Regions from separate parts of the Homo sapiens genome. Here regions 1 and 3 are each reported to be linked to region 2. The links are microRNA targets in miRTarBase. Many come from high-throughput screens and were not tested one by one. Region 2 holds a microRNA gene; each other region holds the end of a gene's coding sequence.

The links. The annotated mature microRNA hsa-miR-139-5p reads UCUACAGUGCACGUGUCUCCAGU and lies in region 2 at 3,402-3,424, shown strand. An mRNA with a match to its seed (bases 2 to 7 or 8) in the 3' UTR can be bound and repressed. Matches are read on the target gene's strand: a 7mer-m8 pairs with bases 2 to 8, a 7mer-A1 pairs with bases 2 to 7 and ends in A, and an 8mer does both.
Region 1: miRTarBase lists TCF12 as a target of hsa-miR-139-5p. The part of its 3' UTR that is shown has no 7-base or 8-base seed match.
Region 3: miRTarBase lists SYT5 as a target of hsa-miR-139-5p. Seed matches in the 3' UTR shown: 8mer at 2,359-2,366 and 7mer-A1 at 2,767-2,773.

What each region holds. Positions count from the first base shown.
Region 1 is chr15:57,282,011-57,287,080 of GRCh38, forward strand. It overlaps TCF12 (transcription factor 12), which reads left to right. Exons shown (of 21, transcript NM_207037.2): 20 at 435-588; 21 at 4,147-5,070. The coding sequence ends at 577. Among named protein-coding and RNA genes, the nearest start is that of SNORD13D, 5.9 kb to the left of the region's middle. RefSeq lists an enhancer at 2,769-2,828.
Region 2 is chr11:72,613,526-72,618,525 of GRCh38, reverse strand. It overlaps MIR139 (microRNA 139), which reads left to right and starts at 3,396; the gene lies at 3,396-3,463. All of the region lies in intron 2 of PDE2A (phosphodiesterase 2A), which reads left to right. It overlaps LOC105369377 (a long non-coding RNA gene), which reads right to left. Exons shown (of 4, transcript XR_001748292.2): 2 at 4,224-4,434; 3 at 3,789-3,897. RefSeq lists enhancers at 1-145, 4,389-4,488.
Region 3 is chr19:55,169,001-55,174,070 of GRCh38, reverse strand. It overlaps SYT5 (synaptotagmin 5), which reads left to right. Exons shown (of 9, transcript NM_003180.3): 9 at 387-2,875. The coding sequence ends at 587. Among named protein-coding and RNA genes, the nearest start is that of DNAAF3, 4.9 kb to the right of the region's middle.

The DNA.
Region 1 (5,070 bases), not on the chromosome of region 2:
TCTTACTTTATCCTTTTCTGAACTGGTAACATTTTAGATAAAGCACAGGTGTCTCTCTCTAAGTACAAGATGTCAGCATTCATGTCAATTCAGTGTACCGTGTCTTAGTAGGACATTGAAGAGACTTGGTAGCCTAATAACAACAGCATTTGCCAAAATGTTTGAGTGAAGAGTAGCATTTTGATTTAAATCAAATCAAACCCTAGAAAACTAAATCATAAGCAAAAAATGAAGAAAACACAAGATGGTCACTTAGAAGTATAAATCTGGAGGCTCAGTTCAATGCTGAGGTTTTATGTGAGCACATTGTTTCTTCTATGTGATGGTACTTAGTATGGGAATGAAGTTACACAAAACAACAGCAATTTGTTCAGCTTGAGACCTAATTCATAACTTAAAACCATAGTGATAAAAATTCTTTCCCCCTGTTTTAGAGAGGAACCTTAACCCCAAAGCAGCCTGCCTTAAGAGAAGGGAAGAAGAAAAAGTTTCTGCCGTATCGGCAGAGCCGCCAACCACACTGCCAGGAACCCATCCTGGGCTTAGTGAAACTACCAACCCTATGGGTCATATGTAAACATCAGCCAGGTAAGTACGGGTTTGAAAAGAAACAGCAAGGAAATAACCTTAAGATTCATCTTAAACTGGGTTAGAATCTTTGAACAGAATTCTCTAGTGAGCAGTGGCCATTGTAAAGGTCACATGTAATTTGAAATATAACAGTTTGTCTTTCTGTTACATTATCAGACTTAGAGAGCCAGTGTCATTTTATAGCAAATTGCCATTTTCTTCAAAGTGTGGCAGTATCTTGTGACTTTGGTTCTTCTGTTCGGAGTCATCATGTGTACTCTCTTACATGAGTATCTTCCTGATCCAAGAAGAAATAGTACAATGACTCAACCGTCAGAAAACGCTCTTGTTACCACTCATGTTCTTCATTTCTTTATTCAGAAATGCTGACTATATCATCAACCAGTTTTCTGCCAATTATCTAGCTTTTTGTCATGAAGCCTTTATACATGAAAAAGTTATCACTTGTATTTGGATCAATAATGCAAGTTTATGATATGATGCTTCTTCCCCACTTGCAAGCACATCAGTTAACACCCTCTAGAATCTATTAATGAATGGGAAGTTATTATATATGTTAGAGCCAGAATGCCCTTCTCTCTGGTGGAATTTTACTTGTTCAAAGACTGTTCTTTATATCTTCCTTTTCATGGACTAAACATAATTCAGTTCCTTGTGATTTTTTTTTTTTTTCCTCAAGACAGAGTCTCGCTCTGTTGCCCAGGCTGGAGTGCAGTGGCACGATCTCAGCTAACTGCAGTCTCTGCTTCCCAGGTTCCAGCAATTCTCCTGCCTCAGCCTCCCGAGTAGACTAGCTGGGATTACAGGTGTGCACCACCATGCCCGGCTAATTTTTGTATTTTTAGTAGAGATGGGATTTCACGATGTTGGCCAGGCTGGTCTCGAACTCCTAACCTCAGGTGATCCACCCGCCTCAGCCTCCCAAAGTGCTAGGATTACAGGCATGAGCCACCTCGCCCAGCTGGTAACTTCATTTTTATAATCTGCTTTCAGCAGTATGTAGTTTTTTTCCCAATTTTATCAACAGATTAAAGGTAGTAAGTAAAGGCAGATGAGTGCGGGGTGTGGAACAGAAAAAAATATCAAGTGCAGTTTCATTTGGTCAGTTTCGTGGCTGTCTCATTTTGAACTGAAAGTCTGGAATTTGATAGATTGTTTGATAGATAAACTACAAATATTAGTAACTCACCTTTTCCTGAGGGTTTTAGTTCCTACCGCCACTACATATATAGGGTCAAATGAGACTACATATAGGGTCAAATGAGACTACATATAGGGTCAAACCAGACCACAAAGAAGATTTCATTTAGGGTAAAAGAAAAGAAGAGTTAAGGCAGTTATTTCGTAAGTCAGTTATAACTGTAACATTAGCACACTGGAGAAAACCTCAAACTACCTCCCCCACAAAAAGTATCCAGCAATCTAACAGATTGTACATGTCAGGGACTTTAGGCAAGAGCTAGTTTACAGATCCTCTAAAACCTAGATCATTGTTTCATACTCTGTAGAAAATATAGACTACTATGAAACAGTAAGTATTTTTGCTTCAAAAATAAACTTTGAAGTTTTTTTGTTTGTTCTGGGATTTTTTTGTTGTTGTTGTTGTTTGTTTGTTTGTTTTGAGATGGAGTTTGACTCTGTCGCCTGAGCTGGAGTGCAATGGTGTGATCATCTCGGCTCACTCCAACTCCCGCCTCCTGGGTTTGAGCAATTCTTCCACCTCAGCCTCCTGAGTAGCTGGGATTACAGACATACACCACCACGCCCAGCTAATTTTTTTGTATTTTTAGTAGAGACAGCGTTTCGCCAGGCTGCCCAGCCTGGTCTCAAACTCCTGACCTCAAGCGATCCGACCACCTCGGCTTCCCCAAGTGCTGGCGTTACAGGCGTGAGCCGCTGAGCCCGGCCAAAAAATTAACTTTGAAGTTTTAAAATAAAACCATGCCACTATTTCTCAGTGCAAAAGAGACTTTCTAAACTGATAGATTATTTCAAAGAAGAGTGATGGGAGAGGTAACTTATGCTCAGGTCCCAGATAACCACCAAGCTGTGAAAAAGAGCACTAGGCATTCTGCCCTAACACTTCTCTTGGAGCCTGTGTCTTATTTTTCTTGTCTCGCTCTAGTTAGTTCTACCCATTTCCTCTTGTTTTCTTCTCAGTCTCTCTTACTCGTTCAACTTTGTCTTCTTATTCTCATCTCGTTTCCTTCTGTTTACTTCCTGTGCTTTTACTACTTCTCTATTTCATACTGCTCTCATAGCTCTACCTTTATCTCTTTATAATGTGGAAATTTTCCCACTTAGGTTAAAATTAAACTTTGGGCATTCCCACCTATCAAAAAAGGATCAAGAATTCTTTTAAGTTTAAAAAGGCATCAAGATATGAGACATGTAGTGAATGCACTTTGTTCCATAGATTGTATAGGCTAGTGTTTGTCATCTTAGAATATGTGTTAAGGTTGCTAATTTCATAAAGATAGTTATCTGGTTTCATAAATTGGATAGCAGATTAAAAGTAGCAAGAGACAGGGCAGCAGGAACAATGCTACTAGAATCAAAATGGCTAAGACATGACCACAGAATGACTGGTTATAAACGTACAAAAATTTGCCATCCTGTAATGTAGGCCAAGTAGCTTTGAATATCTTAGTTTTCCGTCCCTAAGAGCATTGCTGTGTACCTAAACAATACTGTGGTTATTGTTTAATAAGGAAGTAAAAGTTATGATTCTATCTAAAACTATTTTATTAAAAATTTAAAGTAGAAAATTTCAGAGTTACTGCTATATATATTATATTGGGAACATAAGTATGTATAGAATTTGTACTAATAGAGTAAAATATTCTTAATAAATAGCAAACATTTGTTGAGGACCTACTGTGGACCAGGAACTGGGACCAATATGAAAATGAATGCAAGGTAGCCTCTGACCTCAGGTGCTCTCAGTTTAGATGAAATAAATGTAAACTATTAACACTGTGGTTGAGTGGAGGCAGCAGCAAATTGAGGGCTTTACCATTGTCTCACTACTGAGGAATGAATGAGTAGCACCTCAGAGCTCAGTTATTGCCAACTTGAGTGTTATTAAAATGAAGGTTTGCATCATTGCGGCAGCTGTTTTATACGCCTATAGTTTGTGATTCTGTAATCGCATGATCTCCTTTAAAAATCTTACCATATAGCCGGGTGTGGTGGTGCACACCTGTAGTCCCAGCTACTCAAAGACTGAGGTGGGAGGATTGCTTGAGCCCAGGAGTTGAAGGCTGCGTTGAGCCATGATCATGCCACTGCGCTCCAGCGAGGGTGATAGAGCAAGACACTGTCTGAAAAGAAACAAACAAAAAACCTTACCATACACATCAAGTAAAACCATTTCAGTATACCTTAAAAGGAAAAAGTTCATTAAGTCACTTAGCAGACTACAAATTTAGTGCAGACCTGGATATAGATGAGGAATACCAGCATTTTTTTGTTGGTGGGAGGGGGAAGGTGTTTTATTTTTAACAATTATGTACTAACTGGTATTGTCCTCTCCCTTGGCTGTCCCTGCCACAGTTCCAGAGTTATCAGTAGGCTAGATAGAAGGTGACCTCTCCTCATAAGGACTTGGACAACTCAGATTATCTGAAGACACAAACCTGACAGGAGGGAGAAGAAAAAACAAAACACTTGAACCAAGAAACTCAAATGTAATCCTACGATCAAAGCAACTGGTCAACACTTCCATCAGAAGTGAAGATAGGAAGCTCATCAGATAGAACATCAGCCCATGAGATGTTTGCAACAAATCTTTTGTTGCAAGCAGTGTGTCGCTTCTGCACAATCAGAGACTGTCTCGATCTCTCCACTCACCGTGGAAGTTGCCTTGTGCCTAAACTGAATTGACAAATGCATTGTAACTACAAATTTTATTTATTGTTATGAAACTGTAAGGTCTACATATAAAGGGAAAAAGTTAATGTGGAAAGCTGATCTACACTCAGCTGATGCCAGCATACATTAAAGCGGTTCACGTGCAGAGAACAAAGCAGTGACAACCATTGGCCCTTAGCATTCCCGGCATACCTATTAGTGTCTTAAAAAGGAAGGGAAAAGTCTTTTGTTGCCCTCTCCTATCCTCTTGCCATATGAATAGCGTTTTCCATGAAATAGGAAAATATTACTTGGTATAGCATTTCTCTTGCTCTCATTTTTTGATTTATTTTTATTTTCTCTTTGTGGGTGTTATATTTGATCTCTAAATCTGAACAGTTTATGGTCACAGTCCAGCCTCCTCCGTGCAGCCCTGTGTGCTTTGCACATTTACCTTACAGTGGTAAGCAGAGACCATCTGTGACCATAGCCTAGCTAGCATTTTAAAAGGGGAAATTTTGTTCTCTAGGTTTTCCCCCAAATAAACATTGCTTTATTTCTAATAATAACCAAGACTTTTCAAGCTTCTAGATCTCATAGGAAAGCTTGTAATAGCAAAATTGTAAA
Region 2 (5,000 bases):
TCTCCCTCACTGGAGGAGGGCTCTGTGCCTTGGTGCCCCACCTGCCCAGGGCCCTGTGGCTCAGCCCCTTGCTTGCTCTGTGAGGGGGACGGGAGAAGGATGAGAGTCCCAGTGATAGGGGGAGGACAAGACCAGGGGAGAGGGCTGGGGGTTTCTGGAGGGCCAGAGCAGGAAGAGCAGGAGAGAAGAGAGGACACCACAGTGCAGGAAACGGAGGAGCAAAGGCTGGGAGTGGGGAGGCTGGAGGGGTGCAGGGAATCAGACTGGGGCGCTGCGAAGAGGCCTGAGGCCAGAGCAGGCAGTGCCTGGATGGAGGGAGCGAGCAGCTCCTCACCCTCAGCTCCTTGATGAGGTAAGGTGACCACGAGCCCTGCTCCAGGCTGTGTGCTGAGCACTTTGCTCGGAGCCTGTCACTCTGGAGGAGGGGAGGGGGTGTTCCCAGGAGCTATGACAGTCTTGTGCAAGGGAGGGACAGGGTCACATTTATGTTTAACAAAGCACTGCGCTGGGAGAGAGGAGCTGAGAGACCCCGGCCCTGGGGAGCATGGTGGCTGGGACCCCGGAGGGCAGGCGTGCCCCAGACGGACCCCACTCAGAAGATTGCTTATCCCAACCCCCCAAAGAGAAAGGCTATTTTTAGGAACAATAAAAGTGCTCACACATTCCTGCAGGGGCAGAGAGAGGGAAAGGGGGCAGGAGTCAGTGCAGAGGAAGAGGGTGGACCCCGCTCTTCTCCCAACTCTGCCTTGGTCTTCAGGGACTTCTCCTCAGGGGCTTCCCCAGCCAGCCCTGCCTCTCCAGCCTCCGCCTGTCCCTGGGGTTCCCTACCGGCTCTTATGTCTATCCCTCTGCTTCTGAATTGGTACTTGTTCTGTCCCTGTCTCTCTTTCTCATACTTCCACTTTCCCCCTCCCCCTGGGGTTTGGGGAACAGCTGGGATGGGCCAAGCTCTGTTGAGAGAGCCAAATACAGTCATAGGACAAAGCAGCGGGAGGCTGTGGGATACACACATGCCGCAGAGCACAGACAGAGAGAGGTGGCCAGGCACAGAGAGAGCGCCCAGGGAGGCTGAGAGGCAGGGAGAAAACACGCTGGGACAGTCAGGGAGAGCCCCAGGGCAGGCATCACCGGGCAGCCAGCCTCTGTGCCCTGCTCTCTATCTTGTCCCTAAGAAGACCAGCATGGCTGGGCTTGCCTCCCGCCATCCACCCCACCAGCCCTACCCCAGGCTGGCCCTTCCTCCCCGCCCTCTGCAGGCCCACACTAACCCTAGGCCAGGCCGCCTCCTTCAGCATTTACCTCCCACACACAATGGGCACAGTGAGGACATAAGAGACCCAGTCTCTGGCCTGGAGGCAGATACTCAGCCTTACCCGACATCTGAGAGGGCTCAGCCCATCCCCTGGCCAAGGCAGGTATTAGAGGGGCCCCAAAGACAAGCAGGACTCTGGGACAAGGTGTCCTAGTGTGGCCCAAAGGGCTGGGCTGAAGCATGGGTCTCCTGGCTCCAGATGAGAGCCTGGGTGAATCCTTCCCTGCCTCCTCTGGCCTTAGTCTACCCCATCAAGCTTGGGATTGGACTACATGAGGCCTGAGGCCCTGTAGCCCCTGGTCCCTGGGAATTCTCAGAAGGCCTGGGAGGGGGACAGGTGACCACGCAGGAAGGCTTCCTGGAGGAGGTGTCCTCACTCATGAAAGAAGGTGATAGTGACAGTGCTCCTCTTGGGGAAGAGCCCTCCATCCTGACCTGCTGCCCCCACCCGGTCTGCACGTGGAGATGATCCTGAAGCACAAAGGGCCTCCCGGCCTGCAGAGGTGCCTGGGAGAGGTTGCCAAAGGCTCTCAGTAGGAGACACCCCATTCCTCAGGCTCCTTCTCTGAGACTGTAACTGTGCCAGACTGGGGAGGCTTTGAGAGGTCTCAGCTATCTCCCCTGCCTAGATCCTTCCTCCACACCCCTCTTCTCCCTGATGGCATGTAGCCCTCACAGTACAGTAGTCCTGGGCACACAGGAGTTTACCCAGTCATTTACAGCTCAGCAAACGCCTACCAACACCTATGAGGGGCTGGGTAATGCTGGAGACCTGGAGAGGGGCAGGACACAATCTCTGCCCTCCAAAAGCTCCCAGTCTGTTGTGGGAGCCAGACGGGAAAGGGTGGCACTGCATTGATGCACACAGTGCATGCCATGGTGGGGGAAAGGGGGGCAGTGGGAGCCCCAGGTGGGAGGGTCAGACTTGCCTGGAGAGAGAACAACAACAGACTCTCCCTGGAGGGGATCCAGAGAAGGGAGATCACTCCATTCATTCATTCGTCATTCATCCATCCACCCATTCAATTATTCCTTTGGCCATCATTTCCTGAGGGATGTAAACTCTCTTCTGACACTGACCCAGCGGGACACTCAGCGTCCTCCTCCTCTCCTGCTTGAGCCACCATGCCTGCCTCTTGGAGGCTCCTGGACTTGCTTTGCTCAGCTCCCAACCCACCCTGAGGGGGTGAGGCTGAGGAGGGTGTACAGACATTCAGGGTCACCAAACTCAGAGCTGGAGGCCTGCCACCTCACCAGGGGCCTTTCTCAGGGCACAGGCTCCCTGGTGGCAGGGCCTTGGCCCTTGCTTGCACACCCTTGGGGACTAGGAGCCCCCTCATCCATCCTGCTCAGGCTCTCTTTTGTGGCGCGACTCTGATTCACAGTGTGCCCAAATCTGCCTCCTTGTGACTGCCGCGAGCTGCCTCGTGGGCCCCAGGCCAGAGGACAAGGATAGCTAGAATGCCAGGTGACCAGGATGACTGTGATGGCATGGAGAGGGGGATGCTGTGATGTGTTTGGGAGGAAGTTTGTGGTGTCCAGGAGAATGTGGGCAGCAGAAATGGGACCACTCTCGGTTCTTCCCTGTAGATGAAGCAGCTGAAGGTGGGAGGGGGTGGGAGGAGACCTGAGCTGGCTCTGCCCCGCTTGATCTGATGTCTGCCTTGCAGGGCCATCCTCCCCCTCCCCACACTCAGCTCCTGCCTCCCTCCCTCTACCCACTCTGACTGTTCCCTCCTTTCCTGACTCCAGACTCTGGGTGAGGGACTGAGGTGATTCCAGTGAGTCAGGCCCTCAGGGAACTGATCGTGCAGGCAACTCTTGCCTGCCTTCTCCTGCTCTTTCCCTCTTCCCATTCCTTCATCCACCCCCAAACCTAGCTCCTGATGGATCCAAGGGTGCGGGGGACAACCGGGAGGTCATTTTGGAGGAGGCAGGAGCTGGAATAGAAGCTGGGACTGGCTTGGGAAGGGCGAGAGGCCGGGGCGGAGCTGGTTGTGGGCGCTGGAAGGGAGGAGCCAACAGTGTGGGGTCAGGCTCCTGTGGATGGGGACACCCTTGGGAGGCACTGGGACTGGCTCAGGTGTATTCTACAGTGCACGTGTCTCCAGTGTGGCTCGGAGGCTGGAGACGCGGCCCTGTTGGAGTAACAACTGAAGCCGGAGTCTGCGAAGGGTGGGCAGGAGGGTGGAGGGATGGGGGCATGGAGCGGGAGGGGGTAAGTAGAGGAGGGAGGGGAGGAAGAGAAAGAGGGAGGAGGAAAGGTCTCTGGCAGGTCCCTCCTTTAAGACTGGGCTCCTGCGCTGCGAGTGGCCCCGTCCATACTGCCTTGTTATCCATATCTCCCCACCACTAGTCTCCCTCTGTCCTTCCACCCCCAGCCTCTCCCCTCCATTGGGACCTTCCCTGGGGCGTCCCCTCATTGGCTGTTCTCACCTGAGCAAGGCCCCTCCCCTCCAGTCCTTAGCCTCTTCACCTGTACAATGGGATGACCCAAACAGGCACCTCTTGGGCTTGTAGGAGGATCCAAGATAGTGTCAGTGGGTCTCGAGGTGTGGTCCCCCGACCAGCAGCATCAGTGTCATCTAGGAATGTTTGGAAACGCAAGTTCTTGGACCTCGTCCCAGACCTACTGTATCAGAAACCCTGGGGGTGGGGCCAGCAATCTGCACTTTAACAAGCACTCTGGGTGGTTCTGGTGCACATGAAAATTGGGGAACGGCTGGTGGAAACCTCTAGCCACAGGAGGTGCTTGGGAAAGGTACCTTCCCCTCCCCAAAGCCTGATGCCTCACTCAAGCATGACACTGACAGTTGGGCTAGTTCAGCTGCGTTCTGGGTCTCTGTCTTGCCTCCTCCTTCAGACTAAGCCTCCCAAGGGTTGCCAAGCCTCTTTCCTCTATTCTCCTCACCCTGATCCAGCTCAGCCTCATTGAGAGAAGTCTGGGGCTGCAAGATCTTCGCACTCACAGGCAGTTCCTCTTTGCACATCCAAGGCACCAGTGTCTTTGAGAGGCGTCTCCTTGGCCAGGTGGCAGGCGTGGGTGTGTGGGGAGGAAGGAGGAGGAACCGCCTTGTTCTGCTTTCTTGTCTCTGACTCTGCAGGCTGGGGGTGCTGTAAGGCTGCGAGGAGGCATAGAGTCAGCTTGGGTGCTGGGCTGAGGCCAGGGGCCGAGGCTCAGCTGAAGCGGGCTTCTCTGGTCTGAGCCTACAGGATGCCTCCTTTGGGGCAGTTCTGCCAGTCACCCTGACTGGGCGGCTGTGCTTGCTAGTGCCAGACCCATGCTAGGCACAGAGGTCGATACGTTCTCCTGTGCTCTTGAAGGGCCCTGTCCTCTGGGAAGATAAGAGGCTGTGTATATTGCCCACCGGAACAGGAGGCAGGAAGCAAAAGAGGCGTAGATGACACTTGCCTGGCACCCCCTGTTTCCCCTCTAGCTGCCTTCCTGGGTTTCCCATTCTGTGGGCGCTTCTCTTGAGTTAGGTGCTTTCTCCCAGTGTTCTCAAGGTGACTATTTGGAGGTTTGTGGGAGGAGTGGGCTGGAGACACAGGAGTAGGTGGGGGCAGGAAGTATGCAGGAGAGAGATGGAGAGTGGGAGGAGAAGCTATGAGAGGAAGAGAGGACGCGGAGGTGGGAAAAGACGTCAAGACTCCTGGAGAGGAACAGGAGTGCAGCCTGGGACAGAGG
Region 3 (5,070 bases), not on the chromosome of region 2:
GAACGTGGTTCTAAGAAAAAGAGACCTCCCCTCACTTCTTTAGGGACGGCGCCTACCCTAGCCCGGCCCCTGTTAAAGTTCTGCAGCTTTGCGGCTCTTAGGAGGCTGCTCCCCCAGGAGGCGCCGAACACACCCGCTCCGCAACCGAGTCCTGAGGGTTCATTTCCTTAGAAACCTGGCTGCGCAGGAAGAAAGGCGCCAGAGCCTCCTCCTCGCCGCAGGCTCCGTCCCTCTCGTCTCCCACCCCCTCCCCCGTCCCGAGCTCCGGGGCCCCGAGCCCTCGGGTGGCAGCGAGAGGTACCCTCAGCCGTGAAAACGGACACCGCCCCTTCCGGGGCCTCCTCCCCTCACGCTCCTCTCTCCTCTTCCTCCCGCGCCCACCCCAGAAGGTGCAGGTGGAGCTGACCGTGCTGGACTACGACAAGCTGGGCAAGAACGAGGCCATCGGGAGGGTGGCCGTGGGGGCGGCCGCCGGCGGGGCTGGCCTGCGGCACTGGGCGGACATGCTGGCCAACCCGCGGCGGCCCATTGCCCAGTGGCACTCGCTGCGGCCCCCGGACCGAGTGAGGCTGCTGCCTGCGCCCTGACTCCCACCCCAAGCCCCCGGCCAAGCCTGGACTCTAGCCCCTGACCCCAGACTCCCGAGACCGGCCAAAGCCAAGCCAGCCCCACCCTTAAGCTTCCTCTGACGGTTACCCTCCCCCCACCTTCCACCCCAACCATCTGAACCATTCCTGTCTTCTCACCCCCAACGATGCCAATCACGACAACTTTCCAGCACACTCCCCCGACCCTCGCGGACACACCCAGATGCCCCAGGGACCCCGGGAAGGGAAGGCAGCCTGGTTTCTCCTGCCCCCGGGTCCTGCCCCCTGCTTTGACAATCAGCCATCCTCGTCTGCTCTCCTCTCTCTTCCAACACAGCCCATCCCTGCACTGCTCCTGGGGCCAAATAAATATTCAGCAGCTCCGGTGGCCTGGGCCCATGCTCCTTGATGGGGGTGGGCAAGGGCTGGGACCCAAGAGGAAACCTCGTTTCCAGGAATGGGCGCTCGCAGGGCGGTGTGAGTGCTGTTCGTCCTGAAAGCCTCTGAGAGACTGGCCTGACCCCATGGACTCCCTCACACTCTCACCCGTTCATTCCTCACTCACCACTCTGAGCCTGGGTTTCCTCCTCTGGAGAATGTTGGGATAATAATAATTCCTGCCACACGCTGGCTGTGAGGAGTCCGCGAGAACTCCCTTGCTTGTCCATGAATTTATCCACTCGCTTGCTCACCCATGACTCACATCGATTTTCATACCCATTTCTGCATCCCTCCCTCCCTCTCTTTTTTTTCTTCCTTCCATTCCATATTCCCTGAGGTCTTCTGTTGAGTGCTGGGGCCCCAGAATATCCAAACACAGACCTGACCCCCCAAGCGACTTACTGCCATCAAAACAAAGGAGAGGCGCGGAGCCAGGGAATACAATCTCCAGAGCCTGCGAGAGAGGTTGGAGTTCAGCAAGGAAAGCCAATGATTTCAACTTCACCTCTTTCTTTTTTCTTTTCTTTTTTCCTTTTTGTTTTCTTTCTGTCTTTCCTTTTCTTTCTTTTTCTCTTGTTTTTTTTTTGTTTGTTTGTTTTTTTGTTTTTGTTTTTGTTTTTTTGAGATGAAGTCTCACTTTGTCGCCCAGGCTGGAGTGCAGTGGCACGATTTCGGCTCACTGCAAGCTCCTCCTCCCGGGTTCACGCCATTCTCCTGCCTCAGCCTCCCGAGCAGCTGGGACTACAGGCGCCCGCCACCACACCCGGCTAATTTTTTTGTATTTTTAGTAGAGACGGCATTTCACCGTGTTAGCCAGGATGATCTCGATCTCCTGACCTCGTGATCCGCCCGCCTCGGCCTCCCAATGTGCTAGGATTACAGGCGTGAGCCACCGCGCCCGGCCCTTCTTCTTTTCTTTTCTTTTCTATTTCTTTTCTTCTCTTCTTCTTTTTTTTAATTTTGAGACGGAGTTTCGCTGTTGTTGCCCAGAATGGAGGGCAATGGTGCAATCTCGGCTCACCGCAACCCCTGCCTCCCGGGTTCAAGCGATTCTTCTGCCTCAGCCTCTTCTTTCTTCTTTTTTTGACAGGGTTTCTCTGTGTACCCTGGCTGGAGTGCGGTGGGGCAATCATAGCTCACTGCAGCCTCAACCTCCTGGGCTCAGGGGATCCTCCTGCCTCAGACTCCTGAGTAGCTGGGACCACAGGCACATGCAACCATGCCTAGCTAATTTTTTCTTTTCTTTTCTTTTCTTTTTTAGAGATGGGGTCTTGCTATGTTGCACAGGCTGGTTTCAAACTCCTGCAATCCTCCTGTGTGAGTAGCTGGGACTGTAGACATGAGCCGCCGCATCTGACCTCATTGTTCTTTCAACGAATGCTGCCTCCTACTCTGTTTCTAGCAAAGATGATAGTTCCATTGGCTTCTACCTTATCTCATCCCATACAGAATTTTGGGTGGTGAACAAAGACCTATAAGATTTGGCCAGAGAACTCTCTGAGCAGCAGATTAAGTGGAGAATGAGGCAAAAATTACCCCCACGTACCAAAAAAGGAGGCAGCAAACAAACTTACTTGCTCCTAAGCTTCCTGGTAGCCAATCGGGAAAGTGAAAATAGAACAGCTACACAGATTATAATATCCATGAGATTTTTAATTTTTCTCCAAAGGAATTCAGTAACTTTTCATGTGTGTGAGTGTGTGTGTGTGTGTGTGTGTGTGTGTGTGTGTGTGTGTGGCTGTAGAGCATGTCTTTATGAAGACAGCCCTTTATGTTACTACTATTACTGCCAATAATAATCCTCACAGCAAACTCATGAAATAAACATGATCATTATTCCCAGTTGACAAATGAGTCCAAACTGTGCTTTAGAAAATTTGGGGCTGGGCGTAGTGGCTCACGCCTGTAATCCCAGCACTTTGGGAGGCTGAGGTGGGCGGATCACCTATGGTCAGGAATTCAAGACCAGCTGGGCCAACATGCTGAAACCCTGTCTCTACTAAAAATACAAAAATTAACTGGGTGTCGTGGCAAGCACCTGTAATCCCAGCTACTAGGGAGGCTGAGGCAGGAGACTCGCTTGAACCCAGGAGGTGGAGGTTGCAGTGAGTCGAGATCGCGCCATTGCACTCCAGCCTGGACAACAAGAGCAAAACTCCATCTAAAAAAAGAGAGAGAGAGAGAGAGAGAGAATTCCTGTGAAATGCTCAGAATCACACAGCCAGAGAGCCTGTCTCTAAATCCTGGGATTGATTTAGATGATGGCAATGGGGTCCTTGGGTCTCTGTCTCAACAAGAAAGCAGAGCGATAGAAGAATAAAACCATTACAAATGGCCGTCCACACTGGGACCAAAACGTAAAAAGGCTGACATAACTTAGGGAGGGTGGTCAGGGGCAGCCTTGCTGAGGAGGTGCGGTCTGGGCCATGACTTGAATGACAAGAAGGAACGAAGCTTGCAAAGGTTAGGGAGAACAACAGTGGAATATTATTTGGTCATAAAAACAGAAGAAAGCATTGATTCATGCTTCAGCATAGATGAGTCCTGAAAATATTATGCCAAGTGAAGGAAGCCGGATACAGAAGGCTGCATAGTGCAGTATTCCATCCAAAAGAAATCTCCTGCACTGACAAATACATAGAGACAGAAAGTAGATTCGTGGTTGCCAGGGACAGAGGAGAGAGAAATGGGGAGATAAATGGGGTACGTGTTTTCTTTTGGAGTGATGAGAAAGTTCTGGAATTAGACAGTGGTGATGGTTGCACAGCATTGCAAGTGTACTAAATGTCATTCCCAATCAACTTAATAGTGTGTGTGTTTTACACCAATTTAAAAAGAAAACAAGGCCAAGCACGATGGCTCATGCCTTAATCCTAGCACTTTGGGAGGCAGGAGGATTGCTTGGGGCCCAGGGTTAGACACCAGCCTGGATAACCTCTCTATTTTTAAAATTTGTAAAGTTAGCTAGGTATGCTGGCACGTGGCTATAGTTCTAGCTACTTGGGGAGCAGAGGTGGGAGGATCGATTGAGCCCAGGAGTTTCAGGCTGGAGTACTCCAGCCTAGGCAACAGAGCAAGTCCCTGCCTTAAATAAATAAATAAATAAATACAGCCGGGCGCAGTGGCTCACGCCTGTAATCTCAGAATTTTGGGAGGCCAAGGCCGGCGGATCACTTGAGGTCGGGAGTTTGAGACCAGCCTGACCAACACGGAGAAACCCTGTCTCTACTAAAAATACAAAATTAGCTGGGCGTGATGGCACATGCCTGTAGTCCCAGCTACTCAGGAGGCTGAGGCAGGAGAATGGCTTGAACCCGGCAGGTGGACGTTGCAGTGAGCCGAGATAGCGCCATTGCACTCCAACCTGGGCAACAAGAGTGAAACTCCATCTCAAATAAGTAAATAAATAACAGCCTGGGCAACTAGTGAGACCCTTTCTCTACATAAATAAATAAATAAATATCCGGGCATGGCGGCACTTGCCTGTGGTCCCAGCTACTCAGGGGACTGAGGTGGGAGGACTGCTTGAGCCTGAGAGGTTGAGGCTGCAGTGAGCTATGATCACACCACTGAACTCAAGTCTGGATAACAGAGCAAGACTTTGTCTCAAAAATAAATATATAGAAAACAAAGATGAGGGGGAAGATAATTTAAGGCAAAAGAATCCCAAGTTGCAAAGGCCCTGGGGTTCAAACGGCTTGGTGTGTTCTCCAAGGAGCCAGGAGGCTGATGTGGCTTCAGGGGTGGATGACTGCAGATTGCATAGGGCATAGGGAGCCAAGCTAAGGAGCGGGGAATGTGTCCAGGTGCAGCGGGAAGACTTTGGAGGATTTGAAGAGGTGGGAGACATTATTTGATTTATGTTTAAGATCACTCTGGGCCAGGTGCAGTGGCTCACACCGGTAATTCCAGCACTTTGGGAGGCTGAGGCCGGCGGAACTCTTGAAGTCAGGAGTTCGAGACCAGCCTGGCTAACATGGTGAAACCCCGTCTCTACTAAAAATAAAAAAGAATCGCTGGAGCTGGGCACGGTGGCTCACGC